Linked DNA regions of Homo sapiens: regions 1, 2, 4 and 5 are each linked to region 3. Evidence: fine-mapped expression QTL. A gene starts in region 3. Each other region holds a variant in brackets. All regions are shown on one strand. Distances are from middle to middle.

Region 1 (5,097 bases), 260 kb before region 3:
TGGGTTGTCCCACCTTTCTGGACCGAACCAATATATATCTTAAATACACTTGATTGATGTCTCCTATCTCCCTAAAATGTATAGAACCAACCTGCACCCCAACGACTTTGGGCACATGTTCTCAGGGTCTCCTGAGGGCTGTGTCAAGGGCCATGGTCACTCATATTTGGCTCAGAATACATCTCTTCAAATATTTTACAGTCTTTGACTCTTTTTGTGGACACACTACACATCTGCTCTGCTTCCCCCAAACCCCTAAACCCAGGCTGATTATGAGAAAAACCCCAAGTAAACCACAATGGAGGACATTCTACACAATACCTGACCAATCCTCCTAACACTGTTCCAGGTCCTCAGAAGTAAAGTCTGAGAGACTGTCACAGCCAAGAAGAGCCTGACATGATGACTAAATGTCCTATGGGATCCTAGATAGGATCCTGGGAGAGAAAAAGGCAGAACTAAGGGAAACCAAATAAGATGTGAGCTTATTTAATAATATAGTAATATCCAGTCATTAAGTATGACAAGAAATGATGTAAGATGTTGGTCAGGAGTGGTGGCTCATGCCTGTAATCCCAGCACTTTGGGAGGCTGAGGCGGGCAGATCACCTGAGATCAGGAGTTCGAGACCAGCCTGGCCAACGTGGTGAAACCTCATCTCTACTAAAAATACAAAAATTAGCCGGGCATGATGGCAGGCGCCTGTAATACCAGCTACTCAGGAGGCTGAGGCAGGAGAATCGCTTGAACCTGGGAGGCGGAGGTTGCAGTGAGCCGAGATCACGCCACTGCACTCCAGCCTGGTTGAAAAAAAAAAAAACCTGGTCTGGAAAAAAAAAAAAAAAAAGATGTTAAACCTATCTGATACATGTTGATATGTTAAAAAGAGGGGAAACTAGGTTGCGTCTACATGGGAAATCTGCATTTTCTTCCCAATTTCTGTATGAATCTAAAACTAATTTAAAATAAAACCTCTATTTAAAAATTGTAATTTTTTCAGATATCTGCTAAATTATTTGTACTAAAAATTAGTAATTGACAGTAACTACTCCTACTTTTAAAAATAAGAGCATTCATGATACTGCAAAGTAAATTATACAGACTAATATATACTTTCAAAGAAATGCCCCTTTTACATGTTTTATGTTAAGATAACATATATGTGTAAACATGGTCATATCATTTTTCTTATGGTGTAGTTCACTCTCTAAGAAAGCTGGTCATCTTAGAACCAGGGAAAAAAATTCACATTTTGGAGACTATTTCAATTTACGGCTGGAAGTTTTCAAAGTATGACTTTGTGAAAAAAAAAAAAGTTCAAATTGATTCATTGTGACTGGATCACTTATTCTAATGAATGCTTGTCTTTATTTTGTTTCCCAGCATTCCTTTCAGCTACGATACAACAGAAGCAAATATTTGCCACTGGAAAAAATATTCAAAGACACTCTTAGGTTAATCTATAGCTGATGACAGTCAGTCTAGTCTACATAGCAAGCAGCTTCAAGATATGATTACTTAGCTAAGAGGGAAATGGGACGTGACTGCTGCCTCATTCCCACGCCTCTCTGGACCTGATAATTTAGAGGAAGCTCACATTCGCAAGATAAAAATTTTCTTTTCTTTCTCAGTATTAAATATGCTGTCACAGTAGAAGAAAGCTTTACTGACTTCTTAAATGATGTGTTGAGACCGGAAACCTAAAATGATAGTTACTGAGAATACTGCTAATGCCCTAAGACCGGAACCCTAAAATGATAGTTACTGAGAATAGTGCTAATGCCCTAAGACCGGAACCCTAAAATGGTAGTTACTGAGAATACTGCTAATGCCCTAAGACCGGAACCCTAAAATGATAGTTACTGAGAATAGTGCTAATGCCCTAACACCGGAACCCTAAAATGATAGTTACTGAGAATACCGCTAATGCCGTAAGACCGGAAACCTAAAATGATAGTCACTGAGAATACTGCTAATGCCCTAAGACCAGAACCCTAAAATGATAGTTACTGAGAATAGTGCTAATGCCCTAAGACCGGAACCCTAAAATGATAGTCACTGAGAATACTGCTAATGCCCTAAGACTGGAACCCTAAAATGATAGTTACTGAGAATACCGCTAATGCCCTAAGACCGGAACCCTAAAATGATAGTTACTGAGAATACCGCTAATGCCCTAAGACCGGAACCCTAAAATGATAGTTACTGAGAATAGTGCTAATGCCCTAAGACCGGAACCCTAAAATGATAGTTACTGAGAATACCGCTAATGCCCTAAGACCGGAACCCTAAAATGATAGTTACTGAGAATACCGCTAATGCCCTAAGACCGGAACCCTAAAATGATAGTTACTGAGAATACCGCTAATGTCCTAAGACCGGAACCCTAAAATGATAGTCACTGAGAATAGTGCTAATGCCCTAAGACCGGAACCCTAAAATGATAGTTACTGAGAATAGTGCTAATGCCCTAAGACCGGAAACCTAAAATGATAGTTACTGAGAATACCGCTAATGCCCTAAGGTTTTAGTCACACCCTCACCTAGGCAGGAACCCAACCAAAAGGGGAGAACTGTGGAACAAACTACGGGAGGTCATTGTTTCGGTCACCACTCCCGCACTAGGCCACACTGAGCAGGCAAAATCAGAATGGAGACACTCACGCTGAATGACACACAACGAAGCTGAAACTCTAAGGAAGTAGATAGATCCCAAAAGAGCTCCCTTTTTCCCTGAAGAGATTCCAGTCTACCTGAGTCAGCATAAAGAAGTCCCCTCTGCTTTAATTCTTACCAAAACAAGTAACTTGAAGTAATCTGATATTAACAAATCAGTTGTTATTTTCTATTGCTCTATTTCCGC[C/T]TTACACAACACAGTGTTCTGCTATTGCCCAGAGGGCACTGAGACCAAATAAAACTTGAAAATGCCACACTGAAAGCAAATAAGTCCTAATAACTCAATTTACAACGACAACAAAGAGTGACACCAATGCCCAAAGTTTTGATCAATATCTCAAAATTGAGAGGCTGACCAAAAGGGAGGAATTCTTACATCAAACAACATTTGGGCTCTGGAAGCCTCCCGAGGAGTCCTTGTAAAGAGTCGCGGCCGGGCGCCGTGGCTCACGCCTGTAATCCCAGCACTTTGGGAGGCCGAGACGGGTGGCTCATGAGGTCAGGAAATCGAGACCATCATGGCTTACAAGGTGAAACCCAGTCTCTACTAAAAAAAAAAAATACAAAAAAATTAGCCGGGCTTGGTGGCGGCAGCCTGCAGTCCCAGCTACTCGGGAGGCCGGGACAGGAGAATGGCGTGAACCTGGGAGGCGGAGCTTGCTGTGAGCTGAGATCGCGCCACTGCACTCCAGCCTGGGCGACAGAGCGAGACTCCGCCTCAAAAAAGAAAAAAGAAGAAGAACAAGAAGAATCGCAACCTAATTTAGTATAGAAACAAACTGAAAATCTGACTTGGGAATGTATCATGGTAACAAATAGCGGCGGTTCAGCCAATCACATCAGCCGAGTGTCAGTCAATGGCCGGCAGCCAGCTGTTCAAAACAAGTTCCAAGAAGGCAAATCCGGGCTGTAACCAGGTCTGTAACCAATCCAGCCACCTCTATACCTCACTTCTGTTTTCTGTATGTCACTTTTTTCCTCTGGCTATAAATATAACCCGCACATGTTGTGTGGCAGATCATTCTGAACCATTTTTGGTCTGGACTGCTGCCTGATTCTAGAACCACAAAAAAAAGCCAATTAAGATCTGCAAACCCACATTTGTTGTAATTCTGTATTTTAACAGTTGTGCCCTACAAAAGACATTAAGCTGAAATTAATTAAAAATCATTTACGGTCATGATTAGGTCATAAAAAATTGTCAAACATAACAATTCTTCAAAAAAAGCTAAAAAGTATATTTTAAAAATATTGTTGATGGAAAAAAGAGTGCAAAAGTAGATAGGAAAATTATGTACAAAACTAAAAACAGAGGAGAAATTAAAAGTCAAATAATTGCATCAAACTGGAAACCTAGAAAAAATGGGTGATTTCCTAGTAAAAATACACATTAACAAAATGGGCCCTGAAATAAGGCAACTATGAATATACCAATTAGCATAGAAAAGCTAAGAAAGGTCCTTAAAGATCTCCCAGTGGAAAAAGGCCCCAGGACCATCTGGGTCCATAGCTTAGTGTAAGCTGACTTAACTAAATGTGATTTTACACTCGTGCATTGCATACATATGATGGTGGTCCCATGACATAAAAATGGAGCTGAAAAATTCCTTCCTAGCCATCTTGTCATAAGCTCATGGCTCAACGCATTACCTTTTCTCTGTTCTGATACCATGAAAGGAAAATAAATCTCAGGACCCCCAAATCACTAAGCCAAGGGAAAAGTCAAGCTGGGAGCTATGTCAGGCAAACCTGCCCTCATTCTATTCCTAACTAAGATAGCTACAAAGATAAAAAGCTACATACCTCACTCACAATTTGCCCACAAAGAATTTCCTTTTGGACAAAGGACAGACAGCACTCAAAGTCATCCCTCACCTGAGACAGATGCATATCTGATTGCTTCCTCTGCCCTATTATTTATGTAAAAATGCAGATTCATTGAGCCAGACTAAATTGTGTATTCAGTGGAAGGCTGATGAAGGATTCAAAAGAATGCAACCTTTTGTCTCTAACCTACTTCTGACCTGGAAGCACCCCCACTTCCTGCTTCCAGTTGTCCCGCCTTACTGGGCCAAATGACTGTACATCTTACACGTCTCATGTATCCCTAAAATGTACAAAAGCAAGCTCTACCCTGGCCACCTTGGACACACGTCGTCAGGACCTCCTGAGGCTGTGTCATGGTCGTGTCCTTAATCTTGGCAAAATAAGCTTTCTAAATTGACAGAGACGCGGCGCGCCGGCGCAGGCGCACAGAGGCGCGGCGCGCGGGCGCCGGCGCACAGTGGCGCGTCCCCTGGGGGGCGGGGGGAGGCGCGGCGCAGGCGCAGAGACGCACGTCGTTAGGCTGTGGGTTTGGGGGGAGGTGGGTGGTGCAGACGCAGAGTCACGCGCCACCGGGACGAGAGCGCGGGGGTGGAG
Region 2 (5,097 bases), 44 kb after region 3:
AAATTCTTTTGCCAAAAGGAATTTCCACGTGGTTCCTGTATTGCTTTCACACACCCTCACGGAGTTCTTGGCTTTTCGTTTTGTTTTTCTGAGGACATCCTGACTTCCTAGCACTGCGGGATGCTCCAGGCTCCTCCTGTCCACTCCCCACCCTGGTCCTGGAATCAGCCCCTTCTCCAAGAGCCTTGGGTCCTTACTGAATATTAGGAACTGAGGCCTGGGTGTTGGGTGGGCTGCGTGGTCCTGGGTGCCATAGCTCACAGAGGACGGGCATGTGTGCACTCACTGTGTGTGCAGGCGTCTGTAAACACAGCCAGTGCAGGGGTGCGTGTGTGCTGTGTGCGCAGGAGAGTGTAAACAGTGCACGGGCGCGTGTGTGCTCACTGCGCAGGCATCTGTAAATAGTGCATGGGCGTGTGTGCTCACTGCGCAGGCATCTGTAAACAGTGCATGGGCATGTGTGCTCACTGTGTGCACAGGCGTCTGTAAACTGCACGGGCGTGTGTGCTGTGTGTGTGCAGGCGAGCGTAAACAGTGCACGGATGCGTGTGCTCACCGTGTGCGCAGGCGAGTGTAAGTGCACGGGTGTGTGTGCTGTGCGCAGGCGAGTGTAAACTGCACGGGCGCGTGTGCTCACCGTGTGCGCAGGCGAGTGTAAACAGTGCACGGGTGCGTGTGCTCACTGTGCGCAGGCGTCTGTAAACAGTGCACGGGCGTGTGTGTGCTCACTGCGCAGGCGAGTGTAAACTGCACGGGCGCGTGTGTGCTCACTGTGTGCGCAGGCGAGCGTAAACTGCACGGGCACGTGTGCTCACTGCGCAGGCGAGCGTAAACAGTGCACGGGCGCGTGTGTGCTCACTGTGTGCGCAGGCGAGTGTAAACTGCACGGGCACGTGTGCTTACTGTGCACAGGCGAGTGTAAACAGTGCACGGGCGCGTGTGCTCACTGTGTGCGCAGGCGAGTGTAAGTGCACGGGCGTGTGTGCTCACTGCGCAGGCGAGTGTAAACTGCACAGGCGCGTGTGTGCTCACTGTGCGCAGGCGAGTGTAAACTGCACGGGCGCGTGTGTGCTCACTGCGCAGGCGAGTTTAAACAGTGCACGGGCGCGTGTGTGCTCACTGTGTGCGCAGGCGAGTGTAAGTGCACGAGCGCGTGTGTGCTCACTGCGCAGGCGTCTGTAAACAGTGCATGGGCATGTGTGCTGTGTGTGTGCAGGCGACCGTAAACAGTGCACGGACGCGTGTGTGCTCACCGTGTGCGCAGGCGAGTGTAAACAGTGCACGGGTGTGTGTGCTCACTGTGCAGGCGAGTGTAAACTGCACAGGCGCGTGTGCTCACCGTGTGCGCAGGCGAGTGTAAACAGTGCACGGGCGCGTGTGCTCACCGTGTGCGCAGGCGTGTAAACTGCACGGGCGCGTGTGCTCACTGCGCAGGCGAGTGTAAACAGTGCACGGGCGCGTGTGTGCTCACTGTGCGCAGGCGAGTTTAAACAGCGCACGGGCGCGTGTGTGCTCACTGCGCAGGCGAGTGTAAACTGCACGGGCGCGTGTGCTCACTGCGCAGGCGAGCGTAAACAGTGCACGGGCGCGCGTGTGCTCACCGTGCGCGCAGGCGAGCGTAAACAGTGCACGGGCGCGCGTGTGCTCACCGTGCGCGCAGGCGAGCGTAAACAGTGCACGGGCGCGCGTGTGCTCACCGTGCGCGCAGGCGAGCGTAAACAGTGCACGGGCGCGCGTGTGCTCACCGTGCGCGCAGGCGAGCGTAAACAGTGCACGGGCGCGCGTGTGCTCACCGTGCGCGCAGGCGAGCGTAAGCAGTGCACGGGCGCGCGTGCTCACCGTGTGCGCAGGCGAGTGTAAACAGTGCACGGGCGTGTGTGTTCACCGTGTGCGCAGGCGAGTGTAAACACAGCTGGTGCCCTGGTGCGTGTGTGCTGTGAGCACAGGTGTCTGTAAATGATGTAAACCTCCCTTGACGTCAGGCCCAAAAGCCTGCCTTGCCCTAAGGTCAAGAGGTGTATCTGGCTGATGCCAGCGTCTGGGTGAGGAAAGAGCAGGTTCCACAAGGGCGACTCCTGTGAGGGTGTTGGCCTGAGCGCGCATGCGGGGAGGGGTCGGGGTGGGGGCGGCGCGCCGCAGTAACTCAGGGCCCCATCCCGCTCCCGTCTGTCCAGCGGTCCTAGACCCCCATGTCCTGAAGCGCACCTGTGCCCACCTGGCCCCGGGGAGCGCAGGTGTGGAGATGGGGTGTCGTGCCTGGGGGTTCCTTCCCCACGCGCTGCCCCACCAGGATTTCCCTGGGGTGGGGAGGGCTGCTGAGACAGGGCGCTGCCCTCCTCCAGGGTGACTGAGATGCAGTTTACAACCATGATCTCCTGGCCGGGCGTGGTGGCTCACGGCTGTAATCCCAGCTCTTTGGGAGGCCGAAGTGGGCGGATCACGAGGTCAGGAGATCAAGACCATCCTGGCTAGCACGGTGAAACCCCGTCTCTACTAAAAATACAAAAAAAAAATACTAGCCGGGCGTGGTGGCGGGCGCCTGTAGTCCCAGCTACTCGGGAGGCTGAGGCAGGAGAATGGCGTGAACCCAGGAGGCGGAGCTTGCAGTGAGCCCAGTTCACGCCACTGCATTCCAGCCTGGGCGACAGAGCGAGACTCCATCTCAAAAAAA[TA/T]AAATAAATAAACAACCATGATCTCCCGTTTCAAGTTGCCACCACTAACTGTAGCCCCGCTGACGGGGGCACTGGCCTTGCAGACTGTCCAGGACGGCCGGCAGTTTCTAAAGTATGTTGACCCCAAGCTGGGAGTCCCACTGCCAGAGAGAGACTACGGGGGAAACTGCCTCATCTACGACCCAGACAATGAGACTGACCCCTTTCACAACATCTGGGTAAGACGCCGGGGGCCCTGAGGCGAGCCCCTCCCCAGGTGTGGCCCCGTGCCGGACCAGGCGCCATCCACGCTCCTGCCTCGCACCCCTCAGCCCACACTTGGGGTCTCCTGGTGCAGAGATGTGCTGAGGCCCTGTCCGTCTGGATGGTGCTCATGGTGGGCAGGGGGCCCCTGCTCTCTAGGCTGTCGTGGACGTGGTCTCCACAGGCCACGGCAGCACCTGTGAGTCCCTGGCCTTCTTCCCGGGGTCTGGCAGGTGCTGCTCAGGTGTGGGCTGATCTGCCGGTGTGGGGAGTGGGGGTGGCTGTGCCCCAGGGTCAAGGGTCATACCCTGTCGCCCACAGGACAAGTTGGATGGCTTTGTTCCCGCGCACTTTCTTGGCTGGTACCTGAAGGTACGGCACCTCCTCTTCCCGGCCTCCCCGCCCCGGTTCTGAGGCCTGCCGTGGGCTCTGGACCGTTTCTGTCCATGGAGTTGAGCTCAGGGTGCTCTGAGTGTGGTGGGAGGGTGTCGCACTGCAGCCACCCAGAGGTTCGAGAAGCCGTGGGGCTCCCGGACCTCCCAGAAGCCCTGATCCTGGTCGGGTCCCCGCTCCGTCCTCAGGGTCGGGGCGGTGGAAAGAGGCGGCAGGGCAGGAAGTCCCGCCCCTGCCTGGGCTTGGGCACTGCCCCATCCCACTTCTGAGGGACCCTGTGCTACCTATGGGGCTAAGAGCAGTGCCTGCTTGACCCTGCAGCCCACCCTGGCAGAGTTTGGTGTCAGGCCCCGGGCACGGGGATGCTGCCTTGTTTGCTGACAGTCGTACATCGAGGCTGCTGGAGGGGCAGCCACCCACCCCACGCTCACCCTGAGACCTCACTGGGGGCCCTGCCAGTGCTGTCGACTCCAAGAATGCTGCCAGCCGGGGTGGGGGCTGCACGCACCCGTGGGCAGGGCCGGGCGTGGCCTGCGTCCCATACTCTGGCTGCCAGCCGGGTGGGGGCTGCACGCACCCGTGGGCAGGGCCGGGCGTGGCCGGCGTCCCATACTCTGGCTGCCAGCCGGGGTGGGGGCTGCACGCACCCGTGGGCAGGGCCGGGTGTGGCCGGCGTCCCATACTCTGGCTGACCCTGGCGCCCACAGACCCTGATGATCCGAGACTGGTGGATGTGCATGATCATCAGCGTGATGTTCGAGTTCCTGGAGTACAGCCTGGAGCACCAGCTGCCCAACTTCAGCGAGTGCTGGTGGGATCACGTAGGTGCCAGCACAGCCCCCGGGGCAGTCGGTGCAGGCTGAGGGGCATTCTCGGAACCCCTGTGCCCAGCGCGGCCCCTGGACCCCCTCATTCTCCCCGGGGGGCAGTGGGTGCAGGCTGAGGGGCATTCTCGGTTCCCCTGTGCTCTTCCGGGGTCCTCCTCGGGGGGCTCGTTACCCCTCACCCCTGCAACGAGTGCTGGCCCCTCCCTGCAGTGGATCATGGACGTGCTCGTCTGCAACGGGCTGGGCATCTACTGCGGCATGAAGACCCTTGAGTGGCTGTCCCTGAAGACGTACAAGTGGCAGGGCCTCTGGAACATTCCGACCTACAAGTACGTCGTGGGGGCTGCGAGGGCAGGGCCGGGTGGGGGTTACCTGGAGGCAGCCTCAGCGTCCGTGCTCCAGCAGACCCCGAGCACCAGGCCCGTCCAGTGTGCGGCTCAGGAGGGGTGACCGTGGGGCTTTGCCTCCTGGAACCTCCCTCTGACCTGGTGTCACTCAAGCCCGGCCGCCCCTCACAGTGGCCATGGCGTCTGACCCACGTACCTCCCTCCTCAATCCCTGGCCGGCCTGGCGCAGGGGCTGTGGGATCATTCCGTGCTTCTCCCTCCCTTGGTTGCTTTGGTTATGAAATAGTTGCAGGTACTTTGTCATTATGACTTTGGAATTTAAAAAAGAAACAGAAGTCTAAGGAAAGGCCTGGGGGACGGGGGTCTCCCCTCCTGCCTGTGGGTGCCCCGGCTCTGCCTGGCTCTGCAGACATGGCTAGCTCACGGCACCGTGGAGCGCCCTCTGAGGCGCTGCAGCCACTGCTCAAGCTGGAAGAGACTGAACAGCAGAGGGCCGTGGAGAAGCAGGGCTTGTAGCTGGGTGGCCAGACCTCGGAGAACAGCCGGGCAGCAGCTGGGTAACCAGGAACAGAGTCTGTGGCCCGATGGCACAGGGCGGGGCGGGGTGACCAAGAG
Region 3 (5,097 bases):
CAAAAGGTGAGAAAATGGGGGCAGCATTCCCGGGAGAAAGAACATGTGTGGGCACGCCCTGAGAATCAGGGTGCAGTTGGTGTCTGGGACTCAGCAGTCAGCACCTCCCAGGGACTCAGCACTCAGCACCTCCAAGGAGGACTTGGTAGCTACTACTCCTGGTGACTCAGCACTCGGCACCTACGGAAACTGAGTCCAGGGACTCAGTCCTTGGTACTTCAGCTTTGCAGAAGCATAAAGGGCAAGAAGGGAGCTGCCAGAAGGGGAGGCTGGAGGTTGGCAGAGGCCAATCAGGGGAGGCTGCTAGGCTTCTTGGCCAAATGGAGAGCTTGGACTTCAGCAGGGGGCAGTGGGGAGCCATGGAAGGGGTTAGAGCAGAGGAAAGGCACGCCCAGATCCAGCCTGGAGCTGGGACTAGCAAGTCCTCCCCATGTCTGCAACTGTCCTTTTTGATCACCACAGGAGTTTTGACCTGCTCCGTTTCCGACCTGGACCGGTTCACCCCTCCTTAGGCAACTTGGTGGTCCCCTGCTCCTGGGAGGTCACCATACTGATGTGCGGACAGCCAGTCAGCCTAACACACTACAGCCCAGAACTCCCAGGCTCGAGCAACCCTCCTGCCTCAGCCTCCGGAGTAGCTGGGACCGCAGGCTCATGCCACCACGCCCGGGTTCCAGCAGTCCTCCTGCCTCAGCCTCCCGAGTAGCTGGGAGCGCAGGCACGCGCCACCACGCCCGGGTTCGAGCAGTCCTCCTGCCTCAGCCTCCTGAGTAGCTGAGACTGCAGGTGCATGCCACGACGCCCGGGTTCAAGCAATCCTCTTGCCTCAGCTTCCGGAGTAGCCGGGACCACAGGCATGCGCCACCAGGCCCGGCTGCAACTGTCTTTTTTGAAGGACTGATGCTCTCACTTCCAACAAACCAGGTGCTGCTTCTCCCAACCCAACCCCTGGCCAGCCCCAAGTCTCTCCTCTAACCCCCAGCATGGGAGGAAGGGGCTGGCAGAGGGGACCCTGAGCTCAGGCTAAGGGGCATCAGGTGCTGGGCTGAGCAGCCAGGGTGTCAGACCTGGATGTGGAGGGCCGAGGAGAGCCCTGGGCGGAGATGGAGCAAGAGGCCGCCGGCGCAGCCCACACGTGGAGGCCCTGGCAGGCCGAGAGGGAGGCTGGTTTCACTCCACACCTCACCACTGCCTCCTCCCTGGGCCGACCAGGTGCTGACCTGCCCAGGTGTTGGCCCTGGCCCCAGGTGACCTCTTCACTGGCAGAGGGGAGAAAGGATGTCTTTCTACGTGTTCACCTGCACTCCCTCCCCCAGAATCGGAATCCAGCAGCAGCAGTCAGCGCCCACCCCCAGAATCGGAATCCAGCAGCAGCAGTCGGCCCCCACCTGTGCTGGGCGGGGTCCTTGGGGAGCAGAGAGCCCACAGCCCGCCGGCCACTCTGCAGCTCCCAACCCTGGGGCAGCCTGCCTGGTGCCCACAGCCCGCTCCCCCTTAGGGGCCAGCTGCAAGGCAAAGCTGCCAGGTCTGGGGTCCTCAGCAGCAGCCCCCGCCTCGGTGGGCAGGCCCTCTCCATCTCGTGTTCAGGACTCTGGTAGAGGTTCCTGGCCCCACACACTAGCTGAGAGCCCAGCCCTGGTGCCCTCAGAATCCCGGGCTGGAGGGAGGAACGCCGCCCGCCTCCAGCACTTCCAACCCCCAGCGTGCCCCAGGAGTCCAGGAGGCAGCTTAGCTGAGCCGGGCGGTCACCCTCGCCTGACCGGGCAGCCTGCAGGGACCCCCCCCACACACACAGGCGCCTTCCAGGTGGGGCTGGCGGGGGGCTGGGGCCGGGGGCCCCAGGTGTGGGCGTGGCTGGGGGCCTTGAAGGTGTGGACCCTTTTGAGCGCAGGACTCACCTGCATGCTGGCTGTGGCCGGAGTTCCAGCTGGGGTTTGGCGGCCAGGAGAGTGGCTGCCAGCGGCGGGTGCTCCTACCTGACTTCCGCGTGGGGCTCGCCCCTCCCTCCTCCTCCTCCAGCGTCCTGCAGCTGCCGCGCCTGGGTGTAGTCGGGGCGGAGCCAGCATCCAGGCCAGGAGAGTACCCCAGCCCCTGGAGCCTGGGACACCTTCCTGGAGCCCAGATGGCGGGTCAGGGGCCAGAGGGGAATTCCTAGGCTGGAGTTCCCGGGAAGGGGGTTTCCACTGTGAGATGGGTCTCATGACACCTGGTCCTAGGGGGAAGCAGGATGGCACAGAGCCCCTGACAGAGCCAGCACCAACGCCCCCACTTGCCTTGCCTCTCTCACCCCCGCTCACACATCCCCATGTTCCCTCCAAAAGCATCCCACCCCAGGCCATGCCCCCCACCCCGGGCCACGGCCCCCCACCCCGGGCCACGGCCTCCCCCACCCCGGGCCACGGCCTCCCCCACCCCGGGCCACGGCCCCCCACCCCGGGCCACGGCCCCCCACCCCACAGGTCCAGTGCTGATTCCCTTAGAGGAGAAACTGGGGCAAGGAGGACTGACGACGAGACAGACTCCCAAAGAAACTGTCTGCTCCTACCCAAGCCCCTGCTTTCTGGGCCCCACTGGGGAATCCTTGGAGTCCTGGGGACACGTGGCTGGCCCCAGGCTGTGTAGACAACGGAGGAGGAGCCCTCCACCCCGCATCCCCAGTCCCTGAGCACGTTCTGTGCAGCCTGGGCTGAGGGCGGCAGCTGGGCAGGCTCTGGGTGTCCTGAGAGTGACCGTCCAGTGGAGTGCCCTGAGGAGGGAAGGGCTGCGGGGAGTGGGGGCCCAGGCCGTGGGCTGGCACACATTATCTGCAGCGTGTGTGGCGAGGAGTCTGCTTCTGAAAGCTGCTGCAAAGCTGGGGAGGCAGGGCCAGAGCTCCGCAGGCAGACGCTGTCACACGGAACGGCTCCAGGCCCACTGGGGCCAGAGCACCCCCCGGCAAGCCCAGCAGCCCTCTGCTGTGGTCCAGGCCCAGGGCCAACAGTCGGCTCTGGTTTCCCCAAGGGGTAACATGGTCCCACCCATGTTTCTCCTTGGGGGACCTCCTGGCAGGCTGGGATGGCAGCAGAGACCACAGCTTTGCCACTTTGGCAAAGACAAGCGAGTGAAGTGGTGGCCGAGGACCTGTGAGCTCAGATGGGGCAAATCCAAATGGAACACATTCAGATCTGTGTGCAAAATGGTGGTGGCTTAAACAAGCTGTGTATTTCTCCTATAAGTGAAATCTGGAGTTGGCCGGGCGCAGTGGCTCATGCCTGTAATCCCGGCGCTTTGGCAGGCCGAGGCGGGTGGATCACCTGAGGTCAGGAGTTCGAGACCAGCTTGCCCAACATGGTGAGACCCCGTCTCTACTAAAAATACAAAAATTAGCCAGGTATGGTGGTGCACGCCTGTAATCCCAGCTACTCGGGAGGCTGAGGCAGGAGAATCGCTTGAACCTGGGAGGCAGAGGTTGCAGTGAGCCAAGATCACACCACTGCACTCCAGCCTGGGTGACAGAGTAAGACTCTGTCTTTAAAACAAAGCAAAACAAAAATCTGGAGTTGGCTAGTCCTGGACTAGTATGGCCGAACTATAGTCATCAGAGACCCAGAATGCCTTCAGCTTGTTGCTCTGCCACCTTAAATACATGGTCCCAGCACCTGGTCCAAAATGACTGCTCAAGCTCCAGTCATCACATCCACGTTCCAGCCAGTGGGAAGAGGAAAGGGCGAAGGAGGGAACCTCACCCTTCACATGGTTAGTCACGTGACCACACTCTATGGCAAGGAAGCCTGGGGCATGTGAGCTCTTTTCCCATGGAAGAAAGCAGGGTAAGCGGGAGAGGGAACATCCGGCAGTCTCACCAGGGGGTCACAGCTGCCAAGTTAGATCTAGTTCAGAAACAGAATGTGCAAGGCTTGTTGAGTATGGGAGGAACTCACACGCAAGATCCACGTTCCCAGCCCCTGCACCGTCCGTGACGGGTGTCGCTCCCCAGTCCCCAGCTCAGCCCGCTCAGGGGTCTCTGTGCTCATGTTTTCACACTGTGTTAAAACAATCTTCGGCTGGGTGCGGTGGCTCATGCCTGTAATCCCAGAGCTTTGGGAGGCAGAGGTGGGTGGATCACGAGGTGAGGAGTTCAAGACCAGCCTGGCCAAGATGGTGAAACCCCATTTGTACTAAAAATACAAAAAATTAGCCAGGCGTGGTGACAGGCGCCTGTAATCCCAGCTACTCAGGAGGCTGAGGGAGGAGAATCATTTGAACCCGGAGGGTGGAGGTTGCAGTGAGCCAAGATCGTGCCACTGCACTCCAGCCTGGGTGACAGAGTGAAACTCCGTCTCAAAATAAATAAATCAATAAATAAATAATAAAACAATCTCCACGTTTTCAGTGTGTTAAAACAATCTGCTAGCAGGTCATGTGAGTTACTCAGGCGCCACTTCAAGTGTCCACACAGCTGCTGTGCTCTCTTTCAATGACTTTTTCAGCATTCCCAGTTGCGTTGCAGAAACACTGTTCCTCCTCCCCCCACACCTTCCGTGGGCGTCACCAGAGGAATCCTCAGTCACTTCCAGAGTCCTGGCTGTAAAGCCAGCATATCCAGCTTCAGGGGAGAGAGCTCAGCGAGGCGGCTGCATTGGCCGCTGGCCTCACCCAGCGTGGAAGTTCCCTTACGATCAGTGAAGGGTGGAGAGGGAGGGGGACCCCACCCAGTCCTATCTGGACAGAAAACCAGTACAGCCCTTTCAGAAAGCAATTCAGCTATAATACGTATTAAGAGCCTTAAAATTGTTTAGACTTTGGTTCATTAATCTAACTTTTTGTAAACTGTTCTAAAAAAATGCAAAATAATGAAAATATGTATATATGTCATTTGCAGCAAAAATTGTAAACCACCAATGTTCAACAATAGGAAAATATCAGCGAAAACATGGTATTCATATTTATATGCTGATTAAGCAGACATTAGAAGTTATACTTTCAAAGAGTTTTTGAGAACATAGGAAAATGCTTATGTTATACTGCTAAGTAAAAAAAACAGACTACAAACATATAAAAATTTTTCCTAGATTAAAAGAGATTTATTTATTCTTTTTATTTTTTGAGACGGAGTCT
Region 4 (5,091 bases), 39 kb before region 3:
ACACCCGCCCCGCTCACCCCCGGCCCCGCTCACCCCCGGCCCCGTTCACACCCGCCCCGCTCACACCCGCCCCGCTCACCCCCGGCCCGCTCACCCCCGGCCCCGCTCACACCCGGCCCCGCTCACACCCGCCCCGCTCACACCCGGCCCCGCTCACACCCGGCCCCGCTCACACCCGGCCCCGCTCACACCCGCCCCGCTCACCCCCGCCCCGCTCACCCCCGGCCCCGCTCACCCCCGGCCCCGCTCACCCCCGACCCCGCTCACCCCCGACCCCGCTCACCCCCGCCCCGCTCACCCCCGCCCCGCTCACCCCCGACCCCCGGCCCCGCTCACCCCCGACCCCCGGCCCCGCTCACCCCCGGCTCCACTGACCCCGGCCCCGCTCACCCCGGACCCCGCTCACCCCCGACCCCCGGCCCCGCTCACCCCCGGCTCCACTGACCCCGGCCCCGCTCACCCCGGACCCCGCTCACCCCCGACCCCCGGCCCCGCTCACCCCCGACCCCCGGCCCCGCTCACCCCCGGCTCCACTGACCCCGGCCCCGCTCACCCCGGACCCCGCTCACCCCCGACCCCCGGCCCCGCTCACCCCCGGCTCCACTGACCCCGGCCCCGCTCACCCCGGACCCCGCTCACCCCCGACCCCCGGCCCCGCTCACCCCCGGCTCCACTGACCCCGGCCCCGCTCACCCCGACCCCGCTCACCCCAGACCCCCGGCCCCGCTCACCCCCGGCTCCACTGACCCCGGCCCCGCTCACCCCGGACCCCGCTCACCCCCGACCCCCGGCCCCGCTCACCCCCGGCTCCACTGACCCCGGCCCCGCTCACCCCGGACCCCGCTCACCCCCGACCCCCGGCCCCGCTCACCCCCGACCCCCGGCCCCGCTCACCCCCGGCTCCACTGACCCCGGCCCCGCTCACCCCGGACCCCGCTCACCCCCGACCCCCGGCCCCGCTCACCCCCGGCTCCACTGACCCCGGCCCCGCTCACCCCGGACCCCGCTCACCCCCGACCCCCGGCCCCGCTCACCCCCGGCTCCACTGACCCCGGCCCCGCTCACCCCGACCCCGCTCACCCCCGACCCCCGGCCCCGCTCACCCCCGGCCCCGCTCACCCCGACCCCGCTCACCCCCGACCCCCGGCCCCGCTCACCCCCGACCCGCTCACCCCGACCCCGCTCACCCCCGACCCCCGGCCCCGCTCACCCCCGACCCGCTCACCCCGACCCCGCTCACCCCCGCCCCGCTCACCCCTGCCCCGCTCACCCCGGGCCCCGCTCACCCCCGGCCCCGCTCACCCCGACCCCGCTCACCCCCGACCCCCGGCCCCGCTCACCCCCGGCCCCGCTCACCCCCGCCCCGCTCACCCCCGCCCCGCTCACCCCGGGACCCGCTCACCCCGACCCCGCTCACCCCGGACCCCGCTCACCCCCGCCCCGCTCACCCCGGACCCCGCTCACCCCCGACCCCCGGCCCCGCTCACCCCCGCCCCGCTCACCCCGGACCCCGCTCACCCCCGCCCCACTCACACCCGACCCGCTCACCCCGACCCGCTCACCCCGACCCGCTCACCCCGACCCCGCCGACTCCTCCCCGCCCTGCGCAGCTGCCCCTCGCCGCCGATGCGCTCACCTTCGCGGAGGTGTCCAAGGACCCCAAGGGCCTCGAGTGGCTGTGGAGCCCCCAGATCGTGGGGCTGTACAACCGGCTGCTGCAGCGCTGCGAGCTCAACCGGCACACGACGGAGGCGGCCGCCGGGGCGCTGCAGAACATCACGGCAGGCGACCGCAGGGTGGGGCACCCAACCCAGACCCGAGGGGGTCCCAGGGGTTCATGCGGTTGAGGGGGGGACAGAGGAGGGAGAGGGAGGGGAGGAGGAAGGGGACGCCCAGGGTCCGCGGAGCCTCGGAGGTCAGCGTCCCGGTGGCGCAGGCCTTGGGCCTTGGGAGGATGGAAGTCCTGCCCTGGGTTTGAAGGGAGGCACCTGATCCGGGCTGCGGCTGATTCCCCCCGGCTGGGGGGCAAAGGCAGAAGCAGAGGCCCCCCTGAGGGTGGCGAGAGGATGCAGCGACC[C/T]CATTGTGGCAGGACCCCCTCAGGTGAGGGTCTGAGGCCTCCGGGTCACGGCTCACACCCTCCCTCCCCACAGTGGGCGGGGGTGCTGAGCCGCCTGGCCCTGGAGCAGGAGCGTATTCTGAACCCCCTGCTAGACCGTGTCAGGACCGCCGACCACCACCAGCTGCGCTCACTGACTGGCCTCATCCGAAACCTGTCTCGGAACGCTAGGAACAAGGACGAGATGTGTGAGTCGGGCAGCCCCTCGTCCCTGCCCTGCTGGACCCACATGTCAATTTTGTCTTTAAGTGTGGGCTTCAGACCACTGGGGCCAGTCCAGCTCCCTGGGGGAGGCAGGGGACCCCAGGTGCCCAGGTGGCCAGGAGTAGGGGTGCAGACTGACCCCCGGCCTCCCACAGCCACGAAGGTGGTGAGCCACCTGATCGAGAAGCTGCCGGGCAGCGTGGGTGAGAAGTCGCCCCCAGCCGAGGTGCTGGTCAACATCATAGCTGTGCTCAACAACCTGGTGGTGGCCAGCCCCATCGCTGCCCGAGACCTGCTGTATTTTGACGGACTCCGAAAGCTCATCTTCATCAAGAAGAAGCGGGACAGGTAGGGGCCGACCCAGCCGTGCAGCAGCCTGGTCAGGGGTCCTCCCAGTCCACCCTGCTTTCTGGCTGTGTGTCCCCTCCTGACTGCCCTCCACCCTCAGCCCCGACAGTGAGAAGTCCTCCCGGGCAGCATCCAGCCTCCTGGCCAACCTGTGGCAGTACAACAAGCTCCACCGTGACTTCCGGGCGGTACGTTTCCCGAGCCCAGGGCAAGCAGGGACCCGGGTGCAGGGCATGGGACGCCGGGGGAGGGTCAGTGAAGAGGCCCATGGGAGGATGGAGACCAGGGACCCAGAGAGGAAGGGTCCGGGCCACACCCAGCACACTGCAGGAGGGACAGCGGGCAGAGGGCCACATGGGCAGACATGCACCCTGACCTTGGGCCTCTCTCCACTGTAGAAGGGCTATCGGAAGGAGGACTTCCTGGGCCCATAGGTGAAGCCTTCTGGAGGAGAAGGTGACGTGGCCCAGCGTCCAAGGGACAGACTCAGCTCCAGGCTGCTTGGCAGCCCAGCCTGGAGGAGAAGGCTAATGACGGAGGGGCCCCTCGCTGGGGCCCCTGTGTGCATCTTTGAGGGTCCTGGGCCACCAGGAGGGGCAGGGTCTTATAGCTGGGGACTTGGCTTCCGCAGGGCAGGGGGTGGGGCAGGGCTCAAGGCTGCTCTGGTGTATGGGGTGGTGACCCAGTCACATTGGCAGAGGTGGGGGTTGGCTGTGGCCTGGCAGTATCTTGGGATAGCCAGCACTGGGAATAAAGATGGCCATGAACAGTCACTGCCCTGTGTCCTTCCATGGCTGGCCCGACCCTGTGGCTGGCAGCATGATCCTGGGACTCAAGGTGTCCCCAGGCACCCCCTGCCCCTGAGGACACCCACCCCCTGGGCTCACACACAAGCCTCCCAAGATCAGAGGACATAGGACATGGAGAGCCCAGCAGAGGGACAGCTGGCACCTCAGGGCCGAGAGGGGACAGGGTGGACAGCGGGTGCACCACAGGCACAGACGGAGCAGAGCTGGGGGCCTCGAGAGTAGAGGGGTGACTGGAGTAGGAACAGGGTGGCTGCCTCGTGGGCTACACTCATGCGGCAAATGAACCCAACTCCTCCGCCGCCCACCCTGGGCCTGGAGTTGCCTGGACCAGGGGCTCTCACACTGGCTGCCTGAGGTTTGGGGTCCAGTGGGCTCTCGGACACCCCCATCCATCTCACCCAGAGCCAGGCCATTTAGTTGTGAAGTTACTGTGGATATTCTTAAAACAGAAAGTTTCTGTGAAGCTCAGAACTTGAGGTCTCTAAGGAGCCTGCCCCCATCCAGGATCTGCCTGCATGGGAAGGGTCTAGGAAGAGTCACGTCCCCAACCAGGGACCAGGCAAGGAGGCCCAAGGAGGCTACTGTAAGCACGGGACACGCCTGAGCTGGCTTAGGAAGGGGGATGGAGAGAGGGCAGATTTGGTGATTTGGCGGGTGGGGATGAGAGAGGGAGGGGTGGGGATGAGAGAGGAGGGGTGGAAGGCTGAGAGAGCCGCAGAGGGAAGCCGAATCCGAAACCTTCCGCCGCAAGGGAGGAGACCGAGGCCCCAGCAGAATCCAAAAGGACTTTATTTTCTGGCACTGGGAGGCGCCCTGAGGCCACAGCCTTTTCCCAGGGCTGCTGGCAGGGTCCCAGGGCTGCTGGCAGGGGTTGTGGTCCTGTTGAGCAGAGGAGCGACGCCGCTGCCCTGGCCCCCGCTGTCCCTATGATCCTGCACTCTGGGGTGGGAGCTACATATCATCCTTGGACACCAGGCAGTAGAAGTCTGTGCGGGCACTGTAGTTTCGCGAGCCGAGATCCGAGACGTCCACTTCGCTGCTCCGGCTCTCTCCCAGCGAGACCCCACTGGTGTGCGGTGGAGCTGATGGCTCTCCAAAGACAGGCCCCCGGACACCTGGGGTGGGGAGACCGAGACGCCTGAGGTGGCCACCCACAGCCTTGGCCCAGACCCACTGCCAGGGGCTGCCCCTGCTCACCCCCTGCTGTGATGGCCTGTGAGGCCCAGGAAGTTCCCAGGCAGACCGAGGGCCGAGCACCTCCAGGGCAGAGGCCGTGCAGGGGCTCCCGGTGCCGGGAAGAGTCCTCAACACCTGGAGCCCCTCCAGGCCCTGTGCCCTGTGCCTGCCCCCACTCCGCCCTGTGCTGAGCTTCTCCAGTTGGGGAGTGGGGCTGGGCGGGCATACCCAGGTCGCCCTCAGGGTCCGGGTCCACCTCTGAGTCCAGGGCCCGGCCCTCAGGGACTCGGCCTCGAAGAATCAGCATGGGGTCCTTGTCGTCCTGCAGCTGCGTCTGGGGGTCTCCTTCCACAGGCCTGTACTGCACCTTCCGCGGCAGCGCCAGCTGCACTTCTTTCCAAAAATCGGAGGAAGGAGTCTGGGGGCCAGGTCGGGGCG
Region 5 (5,097 bases), 23 kb before region 3:
GCAGAGGAAAGGGTGGCCCCCGCCCCCTTCGCCCACTTTCCTCCCTTCCCCCAGCCCTGGAAAGGGCCAGGACGCGGGCGAGCTCGGGCTTCCGGGCGACGCGGGAACCTCCCCGGCCCCGAGCCATTTCCTGAGAGACCGCGCCCAGGGACAAGCAGCGCCCCGGGCCCCGACTCCAGGCCTGCAGCGGCTCTGGGAGGACTGCGACCTCCACTCACCTTCGCGGGTCTGATGGCGACCGCCACTCACCTGCTGCCAGGACCTGGGGCTCGCGCCGGGCGGGGGCGGGGCAGCTCACCTGAGCCAGGTGCGCAGCGGCAACAGCCCCGGCGGCGGCGTAGCCCCGGCAGCGGCAGCAGGTGCGGCCCCGCCCCGCAGTCAGGGCGGGGGCGGACCCCAGCGTCCCGCTCTGCGCCCAAGGCTGGCGCTGGAGGCTGCGCTGCTGCCCGGGAGCCGCTGCCGCACGGGCCTGGGGCCAGTGGCCAAACCAGCCCAACCAGCGCGCAGAGCCCCGGAGCCCCAGAGCCTTGGGGACTCTTCGGAGCGTCCACCGCCCTCAAGGTTTTGCGCGTCCGCCCCTATCTCTTCCCTTTCCTCCAGGAAGCCTGCCTTGACCCCCACCCCACCCTCAAGTGGCCCCGATGTCTTCTCTTGCCTCCCTCAACACCCCAGGTGCAGGGACGGGGAGAGGACCCCATAGGCGCCCCTCCCTTGGAAGCCCATGGAAAACTGGAGAAGGGACAGGCGGCCTGAGGCGGCCTCACCTGGTTCCAGACGTTCCACACTCCGGGTCTGTTTCCCATCTAGCCCTGAGGGCAGATATAATCCACCCGGGACCCAGCGAGGCCAGGAAAGCAAGACAGACAGGCTTAATTTTACTGCAGAAACGGGTTGGCTGAAGGGAACAGGCCAGCGAGGTGGGCTCAGGACACCCCCAACAGCCAGGATGGGGGCACGGCAGGATCTGGCGCCCAGAAGTCAGAGGGAGGCCCAGGAAATTTGCGCCAGTTTTCCTGCCTTGTGGCTGCCTGAGGAGCCCTCACTCCCAGTTCTGTGGGTGCCCAGGGTCACCCAGAGTTCAAGTCAGGGCTGTGCCAAGCCTGAGAGCCCCCACAAAGACGGAGCAGGCGGAATAGGGTGGCAGCTCACAGCCCTGAACATACAGGGGATTCCTGCGGCCCCACATGGGCACAGCCTTCTCACAGCACCCCTCAACACGCACAGCGGTGGGCTTGTGGGAGGTGCTGGTGGTGGCACTGTCTCAGCTCCTGGTGGCCTCTGGACGGGCTCTGGCCCTACACGTCTGTGCTCCTGGCACTGAAGATGGATGCTGGGGTGGGATGGGCAGGCATTGGGGGCCGAGAGCCTGCCCCCACCCCACCCAGCCTCTGCCTTCCATGCCACATCTTCTCACGCAGCCTCTGGTACTTCACCTCCAGAACCTTGTTCTTCACCGACTGAGGGATGTCGGGCACGAACCAGGCGGCGATGAGCTTGATGCACAAGGCCACGTGCTAGCGGCAGCACAGGAGAGGCCCAGCACGGTCAGGTGCCAGCTGGCATTTGGGGGTTCAGGGCCGGGGAGAAGGACTGGGGAGAGCACTGCCCAGACCCACTCCGAGGCCTCTCCCGGTTCTGGCTCACCTCAAAGAGGATGACGAAGGCCAGGCGGATGGCCAGGAGGAACCAGAACTGCTCGGAGAAGTTGTAATCGGGGGGATTGCGGTAGTCCCTGTATCTGGGGTAAGGAAGTACCTGAGGTCAGGGGTCAGGAGTTCAGAGGGCATTCTTGGGGGATGGGGAGTTCCAAACCTGCACAGAGTCACGTTTTCTGAGCCCTCAATCCCATCAGGGTCCTGGAAGTCCTTGGTGTGGAAGACGGACAGGCTGTGGTTGACGTAGCCCTTGAGGCAGCTGGGGAGAGGGGAGAGGAGTGTGGGGTGGGGTGGGCTTCCAGGGCGGCCCCTTCAGGCCCCAGAGTGCTTCTAGCCTGCGTTGTGGAGCAAACAGTGAGGTGGGGGCCACGCCACAGACTGCGTCCAGTGGGACGGGGCTCCCGGGCCAAGCACATCTTCACATCCGGGGGCCTTG[T/G]GGGGACTGTGGGGACTCTGGGCATCACCAGCCACTTTCCCTGCCAGAGACTGGCCCTGGGGACCCAGTCTGCAGTTTGGTGGCTCCTCGAGGTCAGAGAGCTGGATAAATCAGAAGAGGACATGCGGAACCTCACATCGGGAGGGAGCCGTTCTGGCAGGGCCTACTCAGGAGGCAGCCAGGTCTGGGAACTTCACCCCCAACTGCGGTCCTGGCCAGTTATCCCTGACCTCCAGCCCAGGGCCTGCCGTCAGTGGGCGCAGGGCAGGGGCCACCCCCAGGCCCCAGCCTCACTAAAGCCCCAGGGGTACCAACAGGTCCAGCCATTCCCAGGAGAAAGGGTCTGGATCCCCCAGGGCTTGGCTGTGGTAGGGCCAGTTTCTCCCAGGGGTCTCCAGACACCCTGAGGCCTTACTCGACAGTAGAGTTGCCTTCTTTCAGGCATGGGCTATAGCGGTACTTGTAGACCACTCGGGGGATGAACTCAGATGTGAAGGCAATGACCATCCCATTGGCAATGACCGCCAGCACACCGATGGTCTCCAGCACCTGCAGCCAGGTCCCTGCACCAGAGCAGTGGGCAAGCGGTCTGACTCAGCGTCCCTCGGCTGGTTCTGCCCTCACCCCCACCCCCGGCCAACACGGGGCCTGCCGTGTCTCTGTGCGTGGTGTCCCCTTGCAGCCCTAGGGCTGCAGTATTCACAAGGAAGTCCCCAGCCATGGCAGAGCATGGCCTCTGCGCTCCTGCACCCCTCACCCTGACATGGACAGGGAGGAACCTGGGAATCCTCATCCTCCATCTTCCTGAACTTCTCAGCTGTGCCCCCCAGCCACTCCACCTCCTGGGTTCCCACCCCAGGGTAAGACCTTGTAACCTGGGCCCGAGACTGGGGGCCTCCCTAACACCTCTCTCCCTTTCCCCACATCCAGCGCCCCAGCTCCCGTCGCTCCCCTGCTGCCTGTCCGTCTCAGCGTGGCCAGTCTTGGGACAGAGGCCGGCTGCTCTGTTCCAGCCCCAGCCACTGGCAGAACCTGGGTCCCCCTTGGGGGCGTCAAGCCCCTCTGAGATCCTGACGGTTTGTGGGAGGAGCCTACAAAGCGCTCGGCCCCGCCCACTCCTGGTACCCTCCCACCCAGGCTCAACCCGCATCCGAGGCCGTCGGAGAAGGGCTGGGGGCTGTCTGCGGCCTGAGATCCGAGAGATTATTTTTTCCAGGTGAGCCGGCCTGGCCAGCGGGAAGCCCACAGGCCTGAGGCCGCCCAGTTCCCGCCCATCCTGCGCCCGCCCGGTCTGACCGATGTCCTTGGCCTTGCGCGGCACCAGGCGCCGCTGCAACCAGACCATCTTGATGGCGTCCAGGCGGATCTCCACGAGGTTGCTGAAGAGCGCGAGCAGCGGCGCCAGCGGGAAGGCGGCCACGAAGATGGTGGTGAAGCCGTACTGGATCACTGCGCGGTGGGGGTCAGGCTCACCGGCGCCCCGCACTCATGTCCGCGGACCCCCGCCCCGCATTCGTCTCCGCGAACCCCCGCCCCGCAGCGCCCACGCACTCATCTCCATGAACTCGTCGAACAGGCTGAAGGTGTTGACCGGGTTCAGAAGGTAGTTGCGCCGCCAGTCCCTGAGCTCGGGGTCCCGGGGCAGGTGCCCGGACTCGGAGGCCCGCAGAGAGCGGCACTTGTGGGTCACCCACCTGCGGGGAGAGCTGCGTGGCAGGGAGGGCGCAGGGGGCGGAGGGGCCTGGGGCTCCCGGGGCTGGGCGGGGGTCGGCACTCACGGGACCAGGTACTCGACGCAGTTGCTGAGCGTCTGCTTCAGGCCCATGATGATGGCCATCTGCACGAAGAGGTCCATCATGCAGCCGCTGGCGTGGCACTGCGGGGCCAGACAGGAGGAGATCAGGGAGGGGTCCTGGGGGACGGTCAGGGGAGCAGTGGCTCAGGGACAGGGCATGAAGCCTGGGGGTGACTGACCTCTTCCAGCTTCCACAAGCCCGCCAGGCGCGTGGACTTCCCGGGGTGGCCGTTGATCCTGGGGAGGAAGGGGAAGTCTGGGGCACTGCGGGCAGCGCCCTGCCTCTGACAGGGTGGGTGCAGCAGGACAGAAGCGGGTAGGAAAGACACAGAACAGGCGGGGCAGGCCCTGCAGGTGAGCGGGGCACAGGTGCTCACACCCAGATGAACCGCACCCGCACGTGGGCACGCACACACACACACACACACACAGGGGAGGCCACAGGCTCCCAGATGAACCGCACCCACACGTGGGCGCGCGCACACACACACACACCCCCACACAGGGGAGGCCACAGGCTCCCAGACGAACCGCACCTGCACGTGGGCGCACACACACCCACACACACACAGGGGAGGCCACAGGCTCCCAGATGAACCGCACCCACACGTGGGCGCGCGCACACACACACACACCCCCACACAGGGGAGGCCACAGGCTCCCAGACGAACCGCACCTGCACGTGGGCGCACACACACACACACAGGCAAGGCCACAGGCTCCAACACACGCTCCAGACAGTGTCTGTTACGAGTGGCCTCGGTTTCTCCCCGTGGAAACGGCACGATGGGTTATTTTGTGTTTAAAATCACCTGCTTTCCATAATATGAGAAATACATGAACTATCTTAAACCAAAAGTCAGGCTCATGGTCAGTGGTGAAATCCCAAAAGCATTCCTATTGTAGCTCACGACAACTGGTATTTAACACGGTTCTGGAATTCCTTGCAAATAAGCAAGAGAAATATGAAGTATAAATAGTATACATTTGCAAAGAAAAAAATGACTCTTTTAGAAAACATGATTATGTACCTGGAAAATCAAAATAAAACAACTGAAAGCCTGGGTGGATAAATCAATCGAGTGCTCAAGTGGATACAAAACGAGCATCCAGCAGAACTGGCTTTTCCGTGTGCGGCAAAGCTGCGGGGAAACATGGCATGAGAAAGTATCGGTCACCCGCAGACACCAGCACAAGTTATACCATAACGA

Direction of the effects. Alleles are on the strand shown, and positions count from the first base shown. SD is a standard deviation of normalised expression in the study named. Not every link is listed here.
With allele T in place of C in region 1, the expression in putamen of the gene that starts at base 1,989 in region 3 is higher (large effect, 1.0 SD a copy in GTEx).

The links.
Region 1: its variant is fine-mapped to the expression of ANO9 in putamen (GTEx, PIP above 0.99).
Region 2: its variant is fine-mapped to the expression of ANO9 in whole blood (TOPMed, PIP 0.91).
Region 4: its variant is fine-mapped to the expression of ANO9 in whole blood (TOPMed, PIP above 0.99).
Region 5: its variant is fine-mapped to the expression of ANO9 in whole blood (INTERVAL, PIP 0.96).

The regions. Positions count from the first base shown.
Region 1 is chr11:184,519-189,615 of GRCh38, forward strand. It overlaps a transcript of SCGB1C1 not described here. Among named protein-coding and RNA genes, the nearest start is that of SCGB1C1, 6.0 kb to the right of the region's middle. The variant C/T (reference allele first, on the strand shown) is at 2,864.
Region 2 is chr11:484,184-489,280 of GRCh38, forward strand. PTDSS2 (phosphatidylserine synthase 2) reads left to right here. Exons shown (of 12, transcript NM_030783.3): 5 at 2,756-2,890; 6 at 3,237-3,287; 7 at 4,016-4,129; 8 at 4,346-4,464. Among named protein-coding and RNA genes, the nearest start is that of RNH1, 21 kb to the right of the region's middle. RefSeq lists an enhancer at 154-675 and a silencer at 3,685-3,825. The variant TA/T (reference allele first, on the strand shown) is at 2,672.
Region 3 is chr11:440,023-445,119 of GRCh38, forward strand. ANO9 (anoctamin 9) reads right to left here and starts at 1,989. Exons shown (of 23, transcript NM_001012302.3): 1 at 1,899-1,989. The coding sequence starts at 1,904. LOC105376506 (a long non-coding RNA gene) reads left to right here. Exons shown (of 5, transcript XR_007062542.1): 5 at 463-651. It also overlaps the pseudogene RN7SL838P. RefSeq lists silencers at 1,763-1,842, 1,887-2,181 and enhancers at 2,013-2,282, 2,590-3,387.
Region 4 is chr11:401,468-406,558 of GRCh38, forward strand. It overlaps PKP3 (plakophilin 3), which reads left to right. Exons shown (of 13, transcript NM_007183.4): 9 at 1,611-1,796; 10 at 2,151-2,304; 11 at 2,476-2,668; 12 at 2,769-2,856; 13 at 3,067-3,441. The coding sequence ends at 3,102. SIGIRR (single Ig and TIR domain containing) reads right to left here. Exons shown (of 10, transcript NM_001135054.2): 9 at 4,882-5,071; 10 at 4,249-4,592. The coding sequence ends at 4,429. Among named protein-coding and RNA genes, the nearest start is that of PKP3, 9.8 kb to the left of the region's middle. RefSeq lists an enhancer at 4,055-4,748. The variant C/T (reference allele first, on the strand shown) is at 2,078.
Region 5 is chr11:417,076-422,172 of GRCh38, forward strand. ANO9 (anoctamin 9) reads right to left here. Exons shown (of 23, transcript NM_001012302.3): 16 at 4,066-4,123; 17 at 3,870-3,967; 18 at 3,643-3,785; 19 at 3,388-3,540; 20 at 2,507-2,654; 21 at 1,813-1,914; 22 at 1,645-1,738; 23 at 863-1,514. The coding sequence ends at 1,296. It also overlaps a transcript of SIGIRR not described here. Among named protein-coding and RNA genes, the nearest start is that of SIGIRR, 4.6 kb to the left of the region's middle. RefSeq lists a silencer at 107-156 and an enhancer at 3,795-4,656. The variant T/G (reference allele first, on the strand shown) is at 2,092.